3 linked regions of the Homo sapiens genome follow. The protein of the gene in region 2 interacts with the protein of the main gene of each other region in a pairwise test. Each region holds a gene or a part of one and is shown on either strand. Other genes may lie near its edges.

Evidence for each region.
Region 1: the proteins of MAFF (region 2) and NFE2L3 interact in binary tests that used the Homo sapiens proteins (3 or more experiments, as listed by UniProt).
Region 3: the proteins of MAFF (region 2) and BACH1 interact in binary tests that used the Homo sapiens proteins (3 or more experiments, as listed by UniProt).

The regions. Positions count from the first base shown.
Region 1 is NC_000007.14:26,182,884-26,188,219, forward strand, and holds the end of NFE2L3 (nuclear factor erythroid 2-related factor 3), read left to right. Parts: intron 1-817; coding exon 818-901; intron 902-1,649; coding exon 1,650-2,900; 3' UTR 2,901-4,254; downstream 4,255-5,336. UniProt on the Homo sapiens protein: Activates erythroid-specific, globin gene expression.
Region 2 is NC_000022.11:38,204,901-38,212,796, reverse strand, and holds part of MAFF (transcription factor MafF), read right to left. Parts: intron 1-7,896. UniProt on the Homo sapiens protein: Since they lack a putative transactivation domain, the small Mafs behave as transcriptional repressors when they dimerize among themselves.
Region 3 is NC_000021.9:29,294,041-29,302,357, forward strand, and holds the start of BACH1 (transcription regulator protein BACH1), read left to right. Parts: upstream 1-4,881; 5' UTR 4,882-4,913; intron 4,914-5,334; exon of another isoform or gene 5,335-5,558; intron 5,559-8,317. UniProt on the Homo sapiens protein: Transcriptional regulator that acts as a repressor or activator, depending on the context. Binds to NF-E2 DNA binding sites. Plays important roles in coordinating transcription activation and repression by MAFK.

The sequences.
Region 1 (5,336 bases), on a different chromosome or scaffold from region 2:
CCTGGACTCAGGCAGTCCTCCTGCCTCACCATCCCGGAGTAGCTGGGACCACAGGTGCACACCACCACACCCAGCTAATTTAATTTGTAGAAACGGTCTTGTTGTGTTGCCCAAGCTGGTCTCCAACTCCTGGGCTCAGGCGATCTGCCTGCTTTGGCCTCCCAAAGTGCTGGGATTACAAGCGTGAGCCACCACACCTGGCCAAAATTATATAATTGTGTAACCAACTGGGAGGGCTGGCTATGGAGGGGCAAAATAAGCTGAAACTAACAATTAGCCAAAAATTACATGGAAGTTGTTTATGGTAGGAATAGAAATACTGATTAGCTTTGGACTTTTAAGTATGCATGTTGAAATACTGAGTACCATAATCAGAGAAATAGGTCAGCTGCAGTGGCTCACGTCTGTAATCCCAGCACTTTGGGAGGCCTAGGTGGGTGGATCACTTGCGGTCAAAAGTTCGAGACCAACTTGGCCAACATGGTGAAACCCTGTCTCTACTAAAAATACAAAAATTAGCCAGACGTGGTGGTGCACAGCTGTAATCCCAGCTACTCCGGAGGCTAAGGCAGGAGAATCCTTTGAACCTGGGAGGCAGAGGGTGTAGTGAGCCGAGATTGCACCACTGCACTCCATTCTGGGCCAGAGTGAGATCCGTCTCAAAATATAATAAAAAGTAGAACTTCCAACCAAGGAACATAATAGCATAAAAATCCAGTGTGGAAATAATACCTGGTGATCCTTTAAAGATAAAGCCTAAAGCCCCAACCAGTTCAGTCTTTTATGTGAAAGATGCACTTTTTGTGTTTCTCTACAGAGACATCTGAATGGGACAGATACTTCTTTCTCTCTGGAAGACTTATTCCAGTTGCTTTCATCACAGCCTGAAAATTCACTGGAGGTAATTGGAACTTTGGCTTTTATCCTCGCAGGAACATATCTGCACTGACCTTTTGGTGAACAAATACAACTCCTTTACTTGGATGACACAGCAGTTTAAAGTAATGCTTATTTTTACAGAAGCACTTCAGCTTAGAATTAACCAAATATGTATAGCATTCCTCTTTCCAAATAATCCCAAAGGTATAATCAAATTTAGACTAGTCATGGAAAACAGCGTGGAGATTTCTCAAAAAACTAAAAGAATTATCAGGTATTTATCCAAAGGAAAGGAAATCAGTGTATCAAAGGGACACCTGCACCCCCATGTTTATTGCAGCAATATTCACAATAGCCTTGTAGTTTTAGCGCTTAGAGGCATTTAAACAGCCTCTCTCCTCCAGACTACTTCACTGTAGTTTATTATCCCTGACCCTCCACAATGTGATTACCAACCGCTAGGATGAGTTGCATCTTATTATAAAGTAGCAAATTACAAGATTGTAACATTAGACTTTTTAAGAAAATCCAGTCAGCTTTTATACTAATCCATCTTAATTTCTAGGTTACTCAGAATTCCAGGTATTCTGATTTGGACTCACATCTCGTATTGTATTGCCTGTATTTAACTAGGAAGTTACTGCCAACAGCATCTATCTCTATTAAATGTAGAGGAATTGACAAAAGAGGGGAAAGAAAGTTGTTAGGTAATAGAACTGCTTCAGAAATAGGGCTATTCATGTTTGAAGTGTTTCTCCTTCGTTTTTCAGGGCATCTCATTGGGAGATATTCCTCTTCCAGGCAGTATCAGTGATGGCATGAATTCTTCAGCACATTATCATGTAAACTTCAGCCAGGCTATAAGTCAGGATGTGAATCTTCATGAGGCCATCTTGCTTTGTCCCAACAATACATTTAGAAGAGATCCAACAGCAAGGACTTCACAGTCACAAGAACCATTTCTGCAGTTAAATTCTCATACCACCAATCCTGAGCAAACCCTTCCTGGAACTAATTTGACAGGATTTCTTTCACCGGTTGACAATCATATGAGGAATCTAACAAGCCAAGACCTACTGTATGACCTTGACATAAATATATTTGATGAGATAAACTTAATGTCATTGGCCACAGAAGACAACTTTGATCCAATCGATGTTTCTCAGCTTTTTGATGAACCAGATTCTGATTCTGGCCTTTCTTTAGATTCAAGTCACAATAATACCTCTGTCATCAAGTCTAATTCCTCTCACTCTGTGTGTGATGAAGGTGCTATAGGTTATTGCACTGACCATGAATCTAGTTCCCATCATGACTTAGAAGGTGCTGTAGGTGGCTACTACCCAGAACCCAGTAAGCTTTGTCACTTGGATCAAAGTGATTCTGATTTCCATGGAGATCTTACATTTCAACACGTATTTCATAACCACACTTACCACTTACAGCCAACTGCACCAGAATCTACTTCTGAACCTTTTCCGTGGCCTGGGAAGTCACAGAAGATAAGGAGTAGATACCTTGAAGACACAGATAGAAACTTGAGCCGTGATGAACAGCGTGCTAAAGCTTTGCATATCCCTTTTTCTGTAGATGAAATTGTCGGCATGCCTGTTGATTCTTTCAATAGCATGTTAAGTAGATATTATCTGACAGACCTACAAGTCTCACTTATCCGTGACATCAGACGAAGAGGGAAAAATAAAGTTGCTGCGCAGAACTGTCGTAAACGCAAATTGGACATAATTTTGAATTTAGAAGATGATGTATGTAACTTGCAAGCAAAGAAGGAAACTCTTAAGAGAGAGCAAGCACAATGTAACAAAGCTATTAACATAATGAAACAGAAACTGCATGACCTTTATCATGATATTTTTAGTAGATTAAGAGATGACCAAGGTAGGCCAGTCAATCCCAACCACTATGCTCTCCAGTGTACCCATGATGGAAGTATCTTGATAGTACCCAAAGAACTGGTGGCCTCAGGCCACAAAAAGGAAACCCAAAAGGGAAAGAGAAAGTGAGAAGAAACTGAAGATGGACTCTATTATGTGAAGTAGTAATGTTCAGAAACTGATTATTTGGATCAGAAACCATTGAAACTGCTTCAAGAATTGTATCTTTAAGTACTGCTACTTGAATAACTCAGTTAACGCTGTTTTGAAGCTTACATGGACAAATGTTTAGGACTTCAAGATCACACTTGTGGGCAATCTGGGGGAGCCACAACTTTTCATGAAGTGCATTGTATACAAAATTCATAGTTATGTCCAAAGAATAGGTTAACATGAAAACCCAGTAAGACTTTCCATCTTGGCAGCCATCCTTTTTAAGAGTAAGTTGGTTACTTCAAAAAGAGCAAACACTGGGGATCAAATTATTTTAAGAGGTATTTCAGTTTTAAATGCAAAATAGCCTTATTTTCATTTAGTTTGTTAGCACTATAGTGAGCTTTTCAAACACTATTTTAATCTTTATATTTAACTTATAAATTTTGCTTTCTATGGAAATAAATTTTGTATTTGTATTAAAAATTAACTTTTCCCTTTTATACAGAATCTGAACCAAATTTACCTTACTTTCCTTCCAAAATATCCACATTCAGGAATATAGGTGAATAACAAATAAGGCAGCATAGCAAACTGCTCAGACTCAAGCCAAATTGAGGTCAACATAGTATGCCAAATCCATAGTAAGGCAAATCCACCCCCCTACCCCAATACTTAACACACAGAATACTATGTGATATAGAATGCACTGAAGACCTACGGTCACTGGTAGTTTGAGCCACAGGCCTTCCTCATGTAACCAGAGACAGAATGGGCTACTTGCAAAAACGTAACTCCTTGTGTGTATATTAAATCCATAAAATCTCTGGCAGTAAAGCCAGCCTGAAGGGATGGCCTCACCATCTTAGAATACTGAGATCTCACCAGAACACTGTAAGCCATATAAACAGTAGGGAAAGAGTCAGCAACAGTGAAACCATCTGTTTAAAATGGGCAAAAGCGATTAAGGGAAAAAAAACAGGTGAATTTGAAAATAAACCAGGGTAAGGTAAATTCTAGAAATAATAGCATTTGAAATGAAAACCTCACTTAAGTTCACTAGAACAGTAAACAGGAGATTGCTGAATTTTTTGAAGACAGCAATGACCTCACCTAGATGACTCAAGTTTGGGGAACATCAAGATTTTGACGGGTACTATAATGCTTAATATGTCCAAATTTTCAAAATGAAGTTTCTCAGATATTATTTCTGCCATAGGAGCTACAGTGTAGAGTATCACATAAGTATCTTGGGCTAGAGAAATGCAGTTTATATATACCGTTGGATTTTTATAATAAAGTTTCCCAAGACCTGTTATTTTGCCAGAAATGCTTCTAGTATGCTTCTAGATAAAATTGCCCCTTCAGTGACTCATGGTGTTCAAATGATCATTTTAGTCTGTTGCTTTTTACAAGGGAGTATTTCAAATGTCTTAAGCTTTTGATAATTATAATTTAAGAACACACATAAAACATTTCAGTAGGAAATCCTACTAAGTACACTCAAAAGAGTGCCTGCTTATCAGATAGCATTCTTTTCAAACCTCTAAAATAAAAGACAGTGGAGAGCAGAATCGGTAATCATGGTGACTCTTGTTACCCATGCTGAAGTGCAGTGGCCCCAATAAAAGATCCAGCCTCAAACTCCTGGACTGCCTCAGCCTCCCGAGCTGCTCAGATTATGGACCGCCATGCCTGGCCTGAAGTTTAAACTCTAAAAACCCTTAAATATAGCACACACAGATCTAGTAACTGCAAACTGAATATATTTAAAGATGGTAGTGTCTGTACTGAACTTTATTCCCCATACATAATGCAGCATACCATTTACCTAGCTTCTACCTTGGATTAAATATTGGGTAACCTAGACAACTCAAGTGTATGAGATGTGCTTAGACCACGTGCAAATACACGTTTCATACAAGGGGGCTAGAGCATCCACATTTTGGTATTGTGGAGGTTCCTGAAACTGATGGGCCCCTCTCCCATCAAGGGACTTTTAATCGGCGCATTAAGCAGCCAGCGTCACAAGCTCTAATTGGCTATGGGCTGGCTTCCTGACATAACCCTGCCTCCATCTTAACATGCTGGATTCAAGGTATATAAACTGCAACTGCTTTTCTGACAGTCCAGTTTTAGAGGCAGAAGGGAATTCCACATTCGGCTTCCAGTGCAAACCAACTAGATTACAAAGCCAATGCCCGAAAGCTGACCATTGCCTAGGACCCTCCACATTACCTACCTAGTTGAGCAGTCTTGATTGCATCATCTAACGTCTTAATCAGAATGAGGAAGACAAGAACAAAGACAACCCAAGTGGGTTGGACATCTCCTTTTCCAATTAAAACTATCACTTGAGCATCTTCACAAGTGTGATCAGATTTTAGGCCAATTGTACGGCAACTCCAAGCA
Region 2 (7,896 bases):
CCCATCCAGCACCCCGTAAGATACAACATCAGCCAGTCCCCTCTCTCCCCAGGCCTCCTTCATCTAGACCTCTGTTTTGGGAAAGTTTTCCCAACCTCCTGGGGGCTGCCCCATACTAACTCAGCATGCCCTAGGCAGATGGGGCAGCCATCCCTAGACCAATGAGGGCCTCTCATCTCCTAATCCTCCCTCCCACAGGCCTGACAGCCACATGCTCCTTCAACAACTATTTATTGAGCTCTTTGCCAAACATGTACTTGGTAATGGGGAGAAAAAGGTGAATAAAACTCGTGGAGGGTCAGTGGTCATTGCTCTGGGCTGGAGAAGGGGACCATCTCCCAAAGTCCCCTTTAAAGCAGCAGTCCTCTCTGTCTCTAGCTGATAGGATCTACTTTGCCAATCCTCTCAGGTTCTCCGCCATGAGAACCTGAGTTTTCTCATCTGTCTCCAAGGGGAGGGGGCAGTGATAAGAAGCCAAGGAAAATAAAGGAAGATAGGCTGGGCGCGGTGGCTCACGCCTGTAATCCCAGCACTTTAGGAGGCTGAGACGGGCAGATCACCTCAGTTCAGGAGTTCAAGACCAGCCTGGCCAACATGGCAAAACCCTGTCTCTACCAAAAACACAAAAATTAGCCCAGGCGTGGTGGTGCATGCCTGTAGTCCCAGCTATTTGAGAGGCTGAGGCAGGAGAATTGCTTAAACCTGGGAGGTGGAGGTTACAGTGAGCCGAGATTGCGCCACTGCACTCCAGCCTGGGAGCCTGGGTGACAGAGTGAGACTCCATCTCAAAAAAAATAAATAAATAAAAAGAAAACAAAGGAAGATGCTTTGTGATCTGAGCTGTAGCATCCTATAAACACGTACCGTATCGGAAAGAGCATCACCCAGTTTTGTGGACAGCAGAGGGCAAAAGCCAGATCCAAGTCCTGGTTCCTTGAGCTGTCTACAGGGTTGACCTCACGGGTTGGCTCAGCCTCTGACACATTCTGGCAGGACCGGGGTGTCTCCCAGGGACAAGGTGCAGAAATGGAAAGCACATGGACCTTGGTGCCAGACACACCTGGGGCCTTTTGGGGGTGGTCTCGCTCTCTAGTTGTGTGGTTCTGATAGGTCAGCCACTCTTTCTGTGCCTCACTTTCCCCCTGGGTGACACAGGTAGCTGTGTTAAGTCAGCTCATGTCACACCTCTCTCAGGACCTTCCCACGGCTCACTGGAGTAAAGCCAGAGTTGTCACCATGGCCCACAAAGTGCTGCAGAAAGTGATCCCCAGTGGCCGGGCGCGGTGGCTCACGCCTGTAATCCCAGCACTTTGGGAGGCCAAGGCGGGTGGATCATGAGGTCAGGAGATCGAGACCAGCCTGGCCAACATGGTGAAACCCCGTCTCTACTAAAAATACGAAAATTAGCCGGGCGTGGTGGCACGTGCCTGTAGTCCCAGCTACTTGGGAGGCTGAGACAAAAGAATCGCTTGAACCCGGGAGGCGGAGGTTGCAGTGAGCCAAGATTGTGCCACTGCACTCCAGCCTGGGCGAGAGTGAGACTCCGTCTGAAAAAAAAAAAAAAAAGAAAGTGCTCCCCAGCATCCCTTCTCCAACCTCAGCCCTACTTGGCTTCCTTTTGTTTCCCCTGCCTCAGCCACACCCGCCCTTCCTCAACACAGGATGCACGCTCCTCTCCAGGGCCTTTGCACTGGCTGGTCCCTCTGCTGGCGTTTTTGTTTTTGTTTTTGTTTTTTATACAGGGTCTCACTCACTCCGTTACAGGCTGGAGTGCAGTGACACGATCACAGCTCATTGCAGCCTCAAACTCCCAGGCTCAAGTGGTCCTCCTACCTCAGCCTCCCTAGTAGCTGGAACTATAGGTGCATGCCACCACACCTGGCCAATTTTTGTACTTTTTGTACAGACAGAGTTTCATCATGTTGCCCAGGCTGGTCTTGAACTCCTTGGCTCAAGCGATCCGCCTGCCTCCGCCTCCCAAAGTGTTGGGATTATAGGCATGAGCCACGACGCATGGCCTCTGTTGGCATCCTTGTTCCCTAGATATCCACAAAGTTTGCTCCATCACCTCCTGAGGTCTCTTCAAATCTCATGTTCACTCAGTTTAGAATTTGCAACCCCTGATACACACACGGACACACACACACACACACACACACACACACACACACACTCCCTGTGTCCCTTCCCCACCTCAGGTTTCCCCATGTGTAATTGTCATCACTCACATATATGGTGGTTATTTGTTCAGTGTCTGTCCCTCCCAACCCCCCGATTAGAATGCCAGCTCCATGAGGGCAGAACTTATACCTGATTCACCGCGGCCTCCCCCATGCCTAGAACCGCGCCTGGCACCTCGCAGATACTCAAGGAATCCTTGCTGAGTTCTCAGTGTGACTCAGGCCAAGGTGGGGACAGTCCAGGGCTTCTCAGGAAACTCCCCAGCTCCTCCCAGCCCACACAGTCAGGGGGTCTGGCAGCTCACAGGGAAGGAAGGAGTGGGACAGAAGGAAGTTGGCGCTTGCAGAGATCCCCTGACAGGGGCAGCCACTGTGGCCCTTAAGCAGGAGAGTCTTAGGGGTCACCCAGGTTTCGCTGGGGGTAGCTGGGTGGACCCAGAGTGCCAGGTCAGGACCCAGGCAGCTTTAGACCCCTGTGCGGATCCACGGTGAAGACCAGTGGCTTCATGGGGTGACCCCTGAGCTGCGACCCCCCACTGCTGAACATGCCGGCTTAGCCTGGGCTCTGGCCTCAGTTTCCCTGCCTAGCACTCCAAATCCTAGGGGGCTCAGGCCCTGGCTGCCCACCTAGCTCTCCTTGGGGGCCTCTGTGCACTCCCATCCTACCTGGAAAAGTCATATGAGATCTGCTGGCTACCCTGACCTTTCAGATACTATCTGGAGACGTTTACATGTCAACCTCACCGATCCTACCTTTCAATGCAGGCCTTTTTTTTTTCCCTTTTTTTTTTTTTTTTTTTTTTGAGATGGAGTCTCGCTCTGTCGCCCAGGCTGGAGTGCAGTGACAGGATCTCAGCTCACTGCAACCTCCGCCTCCTGGGTTCAAGCGATTAGCTCTGCCTCAGCCTCCTGAATAGCTGGGACTACAGGCGCCTACCACCACGCCCAGCTAATTTTTGTATTTTTAGTAGAGACAGAGTTTCACCATATTGGTCAGGCTGGTCTCGAACTCCTAACCTCAGGTGATCCACCTGCCTCGGCCTCCTGAAGTGCCGGGATTACAGGTGTGAGCCACCACGCCCAACCCAATGCAGGCCTCTTAAGTGGTCACCCTCACCACCCTACACACACCTGGGGAGGTCCCAGCACACCTCCCTGCTGGTCTCAGCTCATTCCCACACAGCAGCTGGACAATCTTTGCACCACGCGAATCTGACCATGCCACCAGCCAGATTAAAGCCTTCCATGGTTCGGCTGGGCAAGGTGGCTCATGCCTATAATCCCAGCACTTTAGGAGGCTGAGGCGGGCGGATCACAAGGTAAGGAGATTGAGACCATCCTGGCTAACATGGTGAAACCCCGTCTCTACTAAAAAATACAAAAAATTAGCCGGGTGTGGTGGCAGGCACCTGTAGTCCCAGCTATCAGGAGGCTGAGGCAGGAGAATGGCGTGAACCCGGGAGGTGAAGCATGCAGTGAGCCGAGATCGCGACACTGCACTCCAGCCTGGGCGACAGAGTGATACTCCATCTCAAAAACAAACACAAAAACAAACAAGCAAACAAAAAAAAAACCTTCCATGGTTCCCTACTATCCTAAGGATGGAGTCCAGACCCACCCTCCCAGCACCCCAGGCCCTGTGTGTCCAGCCCCACGCCCATTTCCCACCACTGCCACCTCCACTCTGTGCTCCAGCCACACAGAATTTCTTTCACTTCCTCCCACCCGCGCTTTCTTGCCTCTGAGCCACCTCCCACCCCATGATATTTCTCTCCCCTCACTCCCCTCTACTTTGTTTGGCAGACTCCTACTCATCCTTCGGCCCTGGGTGCAGACATCTCCTCCTCCAGGAAGCCCTCCCTGATCCCTAGGACTTGTTAGGGACCCCCACCCCTGTGTGTAATGGGTTGTATTTCCTTGCTGTCTCTCCACCAGACAGGGAGAGGCTGAGTCAGCTCTGGGTGCTTGAGGCCACCCATCTCAAGACCTGGCAGGGAGCAGGCACTGGGGAAGGGTGGATGGTCAGAGTCTCTGACGCCATCACCCAGCTTGTCACCAAGCCGGGTTCCAAGCCGAAACGTAGTTCAGTACCTCCTGGCCCTGTCTCTAATTCTTCCTCCTCTCCAGCTGCTTCCTTGGGCCTGTTGGCAGAGACAGTACAGATGCTAGGCGAATGGGAAGAGAGCAGAGGGGATCCCATCCACGTGACTTTGGGCCCAAAGGTGGGGTGTGGGAAACAGGGAAAGGAGCACTGGATTGGGAGTCAAGCTTGGGTTTAAGTCGCATCTCTGTTTTCTCAGGCTGTGTGACCTGGGGTGAGCCACTCCATCTCTCTGGGTCTCCACTTTCCCATCTAAAGGATCGGAACAATACCTGCCTCGCAGGGTTTTGGTGGAATCAAGTGGTATACACTGTAGAGGTCAGTGAGCAGCTGGGAGGTTAGAATTGCTGTCTGTCCAGGAGGGGTCAGGCCTGTAGCCAGCACTGGGGTCTCGCTCTGATTTAGCATCTCCCAGCTGGCTGGGGTCACACAGGGAACTGCAGGAAAGGCCCTTAGAGGCCATCAGGTCCTGCCTCCTCCCTTTACCCAAGGGGAGGTAGAGACCCAGAGAGGGGCAGCACTTGCCTGAAGTCACACAATAGGTGTGAATGAATAGCTGCAAAGGCCCAGGACTGAAACCTGGTCCCTTCACACCGTCACCTCCCTGGTTCGCCCAACCCTGAGGTAATGCCCAGAGAGGACAATAGAGTAGTCCAGGCTCATACAGCCAGCATGGGGTAGAATTCAGGCCTGAGAGTTCAAGACCAACCTGGGCAAGATGGCTAGACTCCATCTCCAAAAAATAAAAAGATTAGCCGGGTGCAGTGGTGCACACCTATAGCCCCAGCTACTCAGGAGGCTGAGGCAGGAGGAACCATTGAGCCCAGGAATTCAAGGCGGCAGTGAGCTGTGATCCCGCCACTGCACTCCCTGGGTGACAAAGCAAGACCCCGCCTCTTAAAAAAAAAATTAGCCGGGTGTGGTGGTGGGCGCCTGTAGTCCCAGCTACTGGGGAGGCTGAGGCAGGAGAATGGCGTGAACCCGGAGATGGAGCTTGCAGTGAGCTGAGATCGCGCCACTGCACTCCAGCCTGGGTGACAGAGCGAGACTCTGTCTCAAAAAAAAAAAAAAAAAAAAAAAAAAAAAAAAAAAGATGGCCAAGCAAGGTGGCTCATGCCTGTAATCCCAGCACTTTGGGAGGCCGAGGTGGGCGGATCATGAGGTCAGGAGACTGAGACCATCATGGCTAACACAGTGAAACCCTGTCTGTACTAAAAATACAAAAAATTAGCTGGGCCTGGTGGCACACACCTGTAGTCCCAACTACTCAGGAGGCTGAGGCAGGAGAATCGCTTAGAACCTGGGAGGCAGAGGTTGCAGTGAGCCGAGATTACGCGACTGCACTCCAGCCTGGGTGACAGAGCAAGACTCCATCTCAAAAATAATAATAATAATAATAATAGAATTCAGGCCTGAGGCCACATGGAGCCACACACCTCCTCCCTGTGTGGCCCTGGCAGGGCGACCTCCCTGGGCCCTGTTTCCCTAGCCCTGTGAAGATGAAGCTGGACTTGCCAGTTTCCAAGGCCACCCCAGCTCTGATTCTCCAGGATTTGTGTTGGGCCCGCTAGGGATACGATTTGCAAGTTACAGTTAAGTATCCAGGCCCCCTTACCAGCCGTTTGGGGAGCTGGCACGTGCAGTGATGCTTGGCCACCTGAGCTACACAGAAAGACCCAATGGGAGAAGGGAAGCCTCTCCCCACGCAAGTTAATCAACTGCCCTTTGGGTGTTGCGGCTGATACAGAACCTCAGAGGCACAGTCTGGCCTCATGCACAAGTCATTTTTCCTGAGTCCTGGATTCCTTGCTAAGTGGGAATAATCACAATAATCTTGGTGTGTAAAATATAAAGGCTTAGGCAAGGCCAGGCGTGGTGGCTCACGCCTGTAATCCCAGCACTTTGGGAGGCCAAGGTGGGCAGATCATCTGAGGCCAGGAGTTCAAGAACGGCCTGGCCAACATGGTGAAATCCTGTCTCTACTAAAGAAAAAAAAAAATGCAAAAATTAGCCAGGTGTGGTGGCGCACACCTATAGTCCCAGCTACTTGGGAGGCTGAGGCAGAAGAATTGCATGAACCCGGGAGGTGGAGGTTTCAGTGAGCTGAGAACAAGCCACTGGACTCCAGCCTGGGCAACAGAGCGAGACTCCATCAAAAAAAAAAAAAAAAAAAAAGGAGGCATAGGCAAGAAAGATCACCTCATCTCACCATCATCCCACTATCCACAAGCAACAGAGACATCACTAACCACACACAGCACCAATTCCCAGTGAGGCAGGCCACAGCCCCTGAGTCTTTCTCAGCACAGAACTGTTTTCTCCTGAGCTTGGACACAGCCTAGAATCCTCAACACTGCCTCCAGACCAGGCCTGAGAGATGGAACCATCAGCCATTCCCTATCCTTGATAATAGCGGAAGCTGGCTGTGATTGTAAATACCCTCAGGTGCTAGGAAGGTTTTGAACCTGCTCTTCCCCCACTCCTCCATGCCCTCCTGTCCGAGCCTCAGCCCCCTCAACCGCATCCTGGATGTCAGCTGAGGCACCCACGTTTGCCCAGGAATGTCCTAGCTCAGCAGTCAGGCAATCACAGGGGGAAAGTCACAAGAAGGGGGAACTTTCTGGTAACCTCAGGCTTTCCGCTGCCAACCCCAGGCCAGGGGCTGCCAAGGGGCCTGGGTCCTCTGCCTTTGCCAGGCTGGCTGACCCTGGGCCTGAGAAATAGTAGCTGATCCGATCCCCTGTTCAGCACCTGAGGCAACCAAGCCACTGTTTGGTAGCCGTGGCGGACTGGAACCCAGGGGTCCTCTGTCTTCTATGTCGGCCACCACCACCTCTCCCTGGCTTCTTCCCTTGGAAGCCAGCAGAGCTGACCTCCAGGGTCTGCAGGTTCATGACGTCTTCTGGAGGCATAAGGAGAGAGGTGACTCTTGAGGGACTGACAACTGCCTTGTCCAGTCAGCAGCCACAACCCTCCAACGTCCCCCTCCCTGGCCCCACCAGTCCACTCCAGAGACATCCTGTAGAAGGCCCACCCGCTGGCATGGGCTCCTTTCTGGCTGCTGAGCCATTCTGCTCGCTCTGTGAGGACAGGGAAAAAATGTGTTTTCCTAGCTCTTGGCAGTCAGCACTGCTGGAGCCTCCTCCCTGCTGGAAGGGGAGCAAGGCTGGAAGAACCAAGCACCACAGAGAAGCAACGGCCTGGGGTTCCAGCCCCAGTTCAGGTACCCTCTCACACTCGCTGTGTGGCCTCAGGTACGGCACTCCCTCTCTCTGGGCCTCAGTTTTCCCACTATGCCAAACGTCCTCCGAGCCTAAGGTACCTTCCAACAATGACTGTCTCTGAGTTTAGAGTTTCAGATTCTGGCCCAGAGCTCCAAGACCACCAGCAGAATGGAGGTAGGGAAAGGAAAGCGGTGAAGGCTTCCTGGAGGTGGGGGCATGAGACACAAACTATCAGACTATCAGACTAGCCCTCTTCTCCACCTGCACAGCCACAGACCACTTCCTCCTTCATCTGGACCATGACCACAACCGCCTGCTCACCAGCCTCTTGCCTTGCCCTCCGTCTCCAATCCCCATCATTGATCCTCCCCCAAGAGCTGTCAGAGGAATC
Region 3 (8,317 bases), on a different chromosome or scaffold from region 2:
CTTTTCATTTTTCTGCCTTTATCTTAATTTTACACTTTGTAACATTTCAAACCAGAGGCTACACCTCATCTTTGATTTCAGTTATCAGGTAAACATGAGGGTGTGTTTACTCATCTGCTCCAGGAAGTTCTCATTGTCTTCTAATAAAATATGTTCATTTTCCATAAAACTTTCCAACCTGGAGGCAGGGGTGCTATGACTTTAATCCATAGTCACATCTCAGGGTACAGGTGTCAAAGAGCAGTTGTTCAAGTGGGAGACTTGTGTTGATCTGGGTAATCCCCCACCTTTAAAGCCTAGTTGTTTTGCCCCACCCCCCCTCCAATATTTTCTTGACTTAGTGAGTGAATACTTAAAGACAAAAGGAGCTAAGGCAATGAAGATGGAGGGAATGAAGTTCTGGGAAGGCTGGAGGGGTATGCAGATTTGTAGGGGTTACAGATGTCATGCTGCATCTGTGGAAATGAGGATTCAAAACCAAAGGTGGGTAGGGAATAAATGTGGAAGTGTGGATCTTTCCTGAGGTTAGGGAGGAGGACAGGGGACAAGGGTTACACTGACTACACATCAAAGTTTTTTCAGGATATGTATTATGTCTTACTGTCCAAATATTATGCTATGGTGTTCCTTATAGCCATGAACATGTCACCTATCTGTATGATTTAGCTCCCTCATTTTTGAGAGTCAGGCAAGACAACCTGCTATTAGAGGAGAAAATGATGGTGTTTGTATCTAGGTTTTATTAAAAATCATTCCCTAACTATGGCTTATAGTTATTTAAATTGTTTTCAGAGTTAATGATAAGATTTTATTTTGGTAATAAAATCAGTATGATGGCCAGAAAGAAGATATGAATGTTTGGAAAAATTGGAAATATCATTTTTGAAAGAAATGTGACAATGCACATATATAACATCTTGCGAATGGTATTGTATATCACCAAACCTGCTCACAGCAGGAAAACTAGCCATCACTTCTCACAGTCAATGAGAAGTATAAATCAAGGACATAGCAGTAAGCTGTGATACCCAAGCTTCACGGATAAATTCTCCTAAAGAATAATGCACTAAAAACAAAACTACATGACAAAAAAAAGCACTAATTGCAAATCACTGTGAAACAGTAGCACAAAATCTTTATATTGTGCTACTAGTGACAGCAACAGAAGACAGTCAAACGCCTAGGCAGATAGAGGCAGGTCCCCGGTGAAACCCCACCTCCAAGCTGAAGACAGTTTAAAGCCTGAAAGCCAAACTACAAGTTAAATTTTCAGACTAGATTGAGAACTTGTCTTCCTGTTTGGCACGCTTTCCTCTGATCTCCACCCTTCACCTATTTTACGTATACTTACCCTTTCTAATTGGTTTTCTACACTGTCGTGCCTGCCTTTGAGTGGTGTCTTTGCTTTAACCTTTTTTTGCAAACTCACAAACCAATCAGCATGCACTCCCCATTCTGAGTGCATAAAAGCCCCAGGCTCAGCCACATGAGAGGGGATTTTCCCACTTTCGGGTAGGGGAACTGCTCCCAGCATTCGCTCTTTGCTGAGAGCTTTCCTTTTGCTTAATCAATTCCACTCCACTCACTTTCCGGTGTCTGTGTGCCTAGTTTTTCCTGGTTGTGAGACAAGAACTTGGACCTAGCTGAGCTAAGGAGCAGAAAGACTGCCAAGACTAGGCTACTTGTCCCAGTTTCAAACTATTATCAATACTAATTGAAAGCAATCAGCTGGGAGCGGTGGCTCATGCCTGTAGTCCCAGCACTCTGGGAGGCCAAGGCAGGTGGATCATTTGAGGTCAGGAGTTTGAGATCAGCCTGGCCAACATGGTGAAACCTTGTCTCTACTAAAAATACAAAAATTAGCTGGGCTTGGTGGTGGGTGCCTGAAATTCCAGCTACTCAGGAGGCTGGGGCAGGAGAATCACTTGAACCCGGGAGGCAGAGGTTGCAGTGAGACAAAATCATGCCACTGCACTCCAAGCCTGCGTGACAGAGAGAGACACCATCTCAAAAAAAAAAAAAAAAAAAGCGATCAGAATTTTTTTTCTTGGTCCCCAAATCTCAACATTTTTTTTTCCCAATAGGAATTAGGTAGAAGCACTATGTCTCATTATAACCTCAAGATAATTTTTAAAAATCTGTTTTAGTAATAGATTTTAATAAACATATGAGTTAGTATAAAAGATCTTGAGGCTGATGTTCTTCAAAGTTGACCATGATGTAGCCACTTTTCTTGATTCCGAGTATTGCAGGATTACTCAAGGTTTTGTTGGCCTGGCAGCTAATAATGTTAATGCTAACTCTGGAAGTCCAGAAGACATAGGTCAGAACATACAGTTGTTTGTGAATATTTACACTGACATACAGGTTTTAAAAGAAATACATTCTAAGTGGTTTTGGTTCAAAGCAAGAGAATACTGAAAACAAAAAGTGCCACATCTTTCACTGAGCATTTTACTGCATTCATTCCTTCATTCAACCTACTATCTGTTTCCACTCCCATTCCTTCTCAATACTAGAATTAGCTTTTAAAAATAACCACATGACTTAGAAACCTCTACTCACTTATTGCAGACCACGGGATGAAGTCCAAACTCCAGGTGCTGTGCATGAGGCCCTTCTCATACTGACTCGGTTTCATTTCATTCTCCAGTTTCATTTTTCGTCCTGTCCCTACTACATGCCATAAGCTTGAAGACCACATGCTTCAGTATTAAAAATGCAGACCCTTAGGTCCTACTCAGATCTACAAAATTAGCATCTTTTGGGGGTGGGACCCAGGAATCTGCATTTTTTTTTTTTTTTTTTTTTTTGAGATAGAGTTTTGCTCTGTCGCCAGGCTGGAGTGCAGTGGCGCGATCTCAGCTCACTGCAACCTCCACCGCCCAGGTTCAAGCGATTCCCCTGTGTCAGCCTCCTGAGCGGCTGGGACTACAGGCGCACACCATCATGCCTGGCTAATTTTTTGTATTTTAGTAGAAACGGGGTTTCACCATGTTGGGGTTTAGTAGAAACGGGGTTTCACCATGTCGATCTCCTGACCTCGTGATCCGCCCGCCTTGGCCTTTGAAAGTGCTGGGATTACAGGCATGAGCCACTGCTCCCGGCCGGAATCTGCATTTTAACAAGCAAACCAAATATTCTTCCCCATAATGAAGCTTGAGAGTCACTCACTTGACTTGATACTCTTAGCACATCTGTATACCTTTGTGAGAACTTCTCAAATAATTAAACCTATCAGGGCATACATCATAATTTTCAGGCTAGAAAATGTCACTGCTATTATCTAAAGAAGCAAGAGTTCCTCCCAAAGAGGAGGGTCTGATCTTCCCCTAGAAAAAACTGCACAGGTGTAGAAAAAACTGCATAGGTGTAGAAAAAAGACACTGCAATTCCACTGGCTCAAGGTGGAAGGAGAATAAAGCCTCGGACACTCCCATGTGTCTGCAAGAACTTCAATCCTTCTTTCATGGTGTATTTCCAAGTGTCCTTTCCTCCTGTTTCACTAAATATCTGCACTCTCACCATGAACTGAGGCAGCCTGGGATGCGAGGTACCTCCTACCTCTGGACCCTATCTAGACTGCTGGGTTCCACTCTTCCCAATCAAGACCCAATGCAAATGTCACCTGCTCCAGGAAGCCTCCCCTAATTCTAGGTCATAATGTATCACTTCACCCCTCGCACTCTCATCCAATTTCACTTGTGTGATTTTCTCATGTATTTTGGATGTAGCTCAAACGTCCCCAAGTCCCACAGCCTGTGGGTGCAAATGCAGTCATGTTAGTCGTAATACCTGAATTATTATCTTGGTATCCTTTTTGCCCCGGGAACTCCAGGGCTGTGTTCTTGTTGCTGGCTCCAAAGCTAACAATAAAATCCCTTCACACAAATCGTCCTTTGGCTTCAGACCTCAAGGTCCGTGTCATCTCCGCAGGAACCCTCGTGGGGTTGGCGTGCCCAGTCCCCTCCGCTGCGCGTGCATCCCGCTCCGCTGACAGCCAGTGCTTTGGTTCTCCAGAGGTGTTAAATGGCTTGGGAACATAATTTCAAAACGGACAGTTGGATAAACACCAGAATAAGCACCAGAAGATGACAGCGGAACCAAGGCTCGAGATGGGCCGGCTGACACCACTGGGCGCTGAACCTGGCTGGAAGCTTCCTGGCAGCGACAGCGAAAAGGGAACACCTGTCGTGGGCGCCCTTGTTTCACTGTCAGTAAGAAGTAGAGCAACTGCTAGACGCGCTCCACAAAACCCTGGACGCACTTCATACACACCCCCACCCCAGCAAGCTCAAGTACCCTGTGAACCTGGACGCCCACCACCCCCAGGGCAGGCAGCGAGGAGCTCTTCAAGGGGTAAAGCGACCCCTGTGGGGCCAGCGCCCGTCCTCTCTCCTGCTGTTCGCGGGCACCCGGGCACGCGGCGACTCGGCTGAATTAGGGCGTCCTGCAGCTCCCGAGGCGAGGAGGCGCTTGGCCTTTCCGTTCCGCCCTCAGAAGGGAGAGGAGAGGTGGTCCTCGAGTGGGAGTCAGTTCAGGATGCGGGCTGTGCCACGCGCGGAGGTCCGGGGACCCCACCGCCGCCTCCTCGAGGCCCGCCCCGCCCCTTACGACCCGTCCCTGCAACCCCCCGCGTGGGCTTCCGGCCGCGGCGACCCCTGCCCCGCGCTATTGCGCGCGCTCGTTCGCTGACAGAGGCTTCGAGGGCGGCAGGGCGGGGCTTCGGCGCCGGGGGCGGGGCCTTCAGCGGGCGGGCGGGGTTTTGGCGCCGCGAGGTGGCGGCAGCAGAGCGGCGCAGAAGGGAGGGGGCGGCTGGCCGCGCGGAAGGAGTGAGTCACCTGACCGCTGCCCTCGCCGCCCGCCGGGCGCTCTCGCTTCAGTCAGTCGGGCCGCGCCGCGCCTCAGCTCTGGTGAGTGGCTCGGCCGTCCCGCCGGCCCTTCTCCGGGAGGGTTGGCGCGGTCAGGGCCGCGGGCCTGTGAGGGGAGGCCGGCGGACAGGTCCAGTGAAGGCGCGGGCGGGCCGGGGGCGGCTCTTTCTGGGCTGGGCGGGGCGCGGGGGGCACGTATCGGGGCCCGCGGGGGGCGCCGGCGGCCGGGATCCTGGAAGTGGCCGCGACGCCGGAAGGGGCGTCCCGTCGGCGGCCGAACCCCCTGCACTGCCGGAGCTGTTGTTTACCCGCGCGCGCCGTACTTTACCCGGGGCGGGCGGGGGCTGGGGGCCGCGGGGTCCCTGCCCCACCCCCCTCCCTGCCCTCGGGCGCCAGCCCGGCCCCTCGCCCGCGGCCCGCCCGGGCTGTGACACATCAGCACCGCCCTCGCGGCTGGGGCCCCGTATTGTCCTCCGCCGCCTCCCACCGCATGCCCAGCCTCGCGTCTACTCAGCCCGGTGGCTGTCGCGCGTGGAATCGCGTAAGAAAAGCCGAGTTTGTGGCTGGGGAGAGAAGGCCACCGTGCTGAGCTGGATTTAGCGAAGACTGGTTTTGGGGACCGGAGAGCCCAGGACTCCCTTTGTTGGAGTTTTGCCCACGCGTTGTAATTAAGCCTCGCACAATATGGTGAGAGTGGGCGTTGATTCTGGAGACACCAGCTTTGTGCTCGTGTAATGTAACACGAGTGCCGTTGCTTTCTCATTCTTACACGGCAGTTTCATGTCATTGAGTAGAATTGTGCGGAATGCTTTTATGGAGTGAGGCTTCTGCGTTAAACTTGTGCTGATTCCAGGTAAAGTGTAGTAGTAATTGTGAAAGAACGTGTATGAGGAAAACGAGCTACAATGTCATGCTTGGAGGAACAAAGAATGTTTTGTAGGATGCTTTGCTTTTTGGAGAATTGTGTAGGGGTAGGGACTGTTACCCATGGATGATGCTATGGGAATTTGATCATGTATTTGAACACCCTTTACATCAGAGGGTCTGCATTGAATGCAGTTCAGAAGGATAAAGGGTGGAAATCCCAGATGTGTTAGTGGCAGAGCACTTGAGCGCTTCACATAGTCAAGCAGAGAAATGGGAAGAGGTCGGCTTGCTTCTTCCTGGTCTTTGGGTAGTGGTGCAAGGGCTGGGCTGGGCTTGAAGGCACTTGCCACTTCTGCCTTTGGACATCTTGAAGAAGCTTAGGGAAGAAAGGCTCCCGGTGAGTCAGCTTGGAGTAGGGTGACTTTGGCGTAGTGATTCTTGTATTGTTGTTTAACCTATGTTTCTGTCAAGTGGTTTACTGTTGTTCGGTATGTTGGTTGGTTAACAAGGTAGGATGACTCTCTAAAAAGTTGGGTTGCTGAGTCATTCGCCCCAGCTTGAGAGGTAATTAGAAACAGCTGGTGCAAATACTCTCATCACATGCCTCCACTATAAAAGGCCAAAGAGCGCTCTAGAGAGGTTGCTTCAGAAGGCTGAAGGGGACCCAGCTGGGGTTGTTTTGATACAGGTTATCAGTGGGTGAAGTGGAAGAGCACTCTTAGGCAGTGGCCAATAGCACTGAGGCGGGTTTAAAGACGGAGCCTCGTGACCTGCTGTCTGAGAATAAATTTGCGCTGGAGAGAGCTAAAACTGGGGAAGAAATTTGCAGCTAGGGGTAACCCAATAAAAAATATTGTAACAAAAATATTTACTACTCTTACTGGACTTAGTTTCCTTTTTGTGGTTTCTGTTACGTGGTCTATAAGTTTCAAGCAGTGAGCTTAATTTGTGCGTCATAAAAATTTGGTTATGAGTACACAGAAGGGACTTGCTCTGTTTCTCATGGCCCTTGGCTTTTCATGCATACACAAGAAGTTTCAGGAGTCAGAGGAGGGTAAGCACCATATGGGTGGAATTAATAGGTCTCATTGGGTTAAGTCTCGAAAGAGCTGTTTAATAAATAGCCAACCGTAAATACCTGTCTCATTGTCTTGATTATATGACACCACTGCCTTTACACCTGGTGTCATTGCTTCTTGCTTTAAAAAGGAGCACACAACCCAAATATTTATATGAGTCCTCATTGCAAACAAAGTTTAGGAATGGGAAATGTAGAGCTGGGAATTTGGCCCTTTGGTGAAAAAAATGATGATTCCTATTAATGGTAGTTCATTTAAAATATTCTGTATTAGGAAAAACGATTTATTTTGTTCCTTTAAGTCTGGGACTAGAGGAGATTAGAAATCATGAATTTTGTAAGTATTAGGGCCTCCAAGGTGGGGTGCAAGGAGGTTCATTTGGAAGGAATATATTAAAACTTTTAAAAACTTTAATATAAGAAAGACATTAAGCTTAAAGATGCAGACTAACAATCGTGTATTCATATTATATAATGCGCGTGCATGTCCTCCACCCCTTTGTTGCTGGGGGAACATAGCCTGTTAACCACTGTCAGTAACATTCTTTCAACAACCGGAATGCTTTTTCTTTTAACTTACGGTTTCCTCCTAAGAGTTCTTTCAGACTGTTAATATTCCATTTAAGTTTTATTTTATAGGTAGTTCTATTGTCTGTATGTTTTACTTTAGAAGCTTGAGTGTAAATTTCTTGTTACATTGTTGATACTGGGGATGGAAATACAAAAAATACAGAATTTCATTTGATAACCTGTATTTTGAATTTGGAGACAAGCCCAGCGGTTGGTTTAATGTATGTGATCTGAAGTGCAGTGATGTGTAAAAGGGTGCAGTGGAAATACTTGAAGATAATCTACACATTGGAGTGTAATATGTATAGCATATGTAAAAATTAGTTTGTACTGTTACTCCTTGAAGTCTGTTTTTTTTTGTTTGTTTTTTGCCAAGCTTATGTTCTCTTAAGATTAATAAGACGACATATTCAGTAAATCCCTTGGGAAGTGGCATTTATTCAGAATATCAACCTCCTACTAGTGCTGGGGGCGGGTGGCGGCGGTGAGGGTGGTTAGTATTTACCATTCAGTTAAATCTCATGTGCCATGTGCCTTCTACACCCCTGTACTGTGAGAGGTGATGCTCAGAATAACAGTTGCAAAGCCCGTTAAAATTACCACTTGTCAGATTTTCTCTTCATAGTGCTGATCTCTCCATGACTTACGTTTTAGGAATCACCACCTCTCTTCTAATTTTCTGACTAATGTTCTGTTAATGAGAGAATTGTCTTAACCCTAAAACCTGCATTCCCTGAGCATTCTAGACAGAGGGTTTATTTTATGTGGTGGAACGATGATTTTTGAGATTGTTTTGATTTAAAATATATGTCAAATGAGGTAATGTACCGATGGCCAAGGTATGGGTAATTTGAGTGCAATTCGCCAGAATCCGTGCCCCTTGGAGGGAGTAAACATTTCAGGACTGCAGCTAAAACATTGACTTACACTC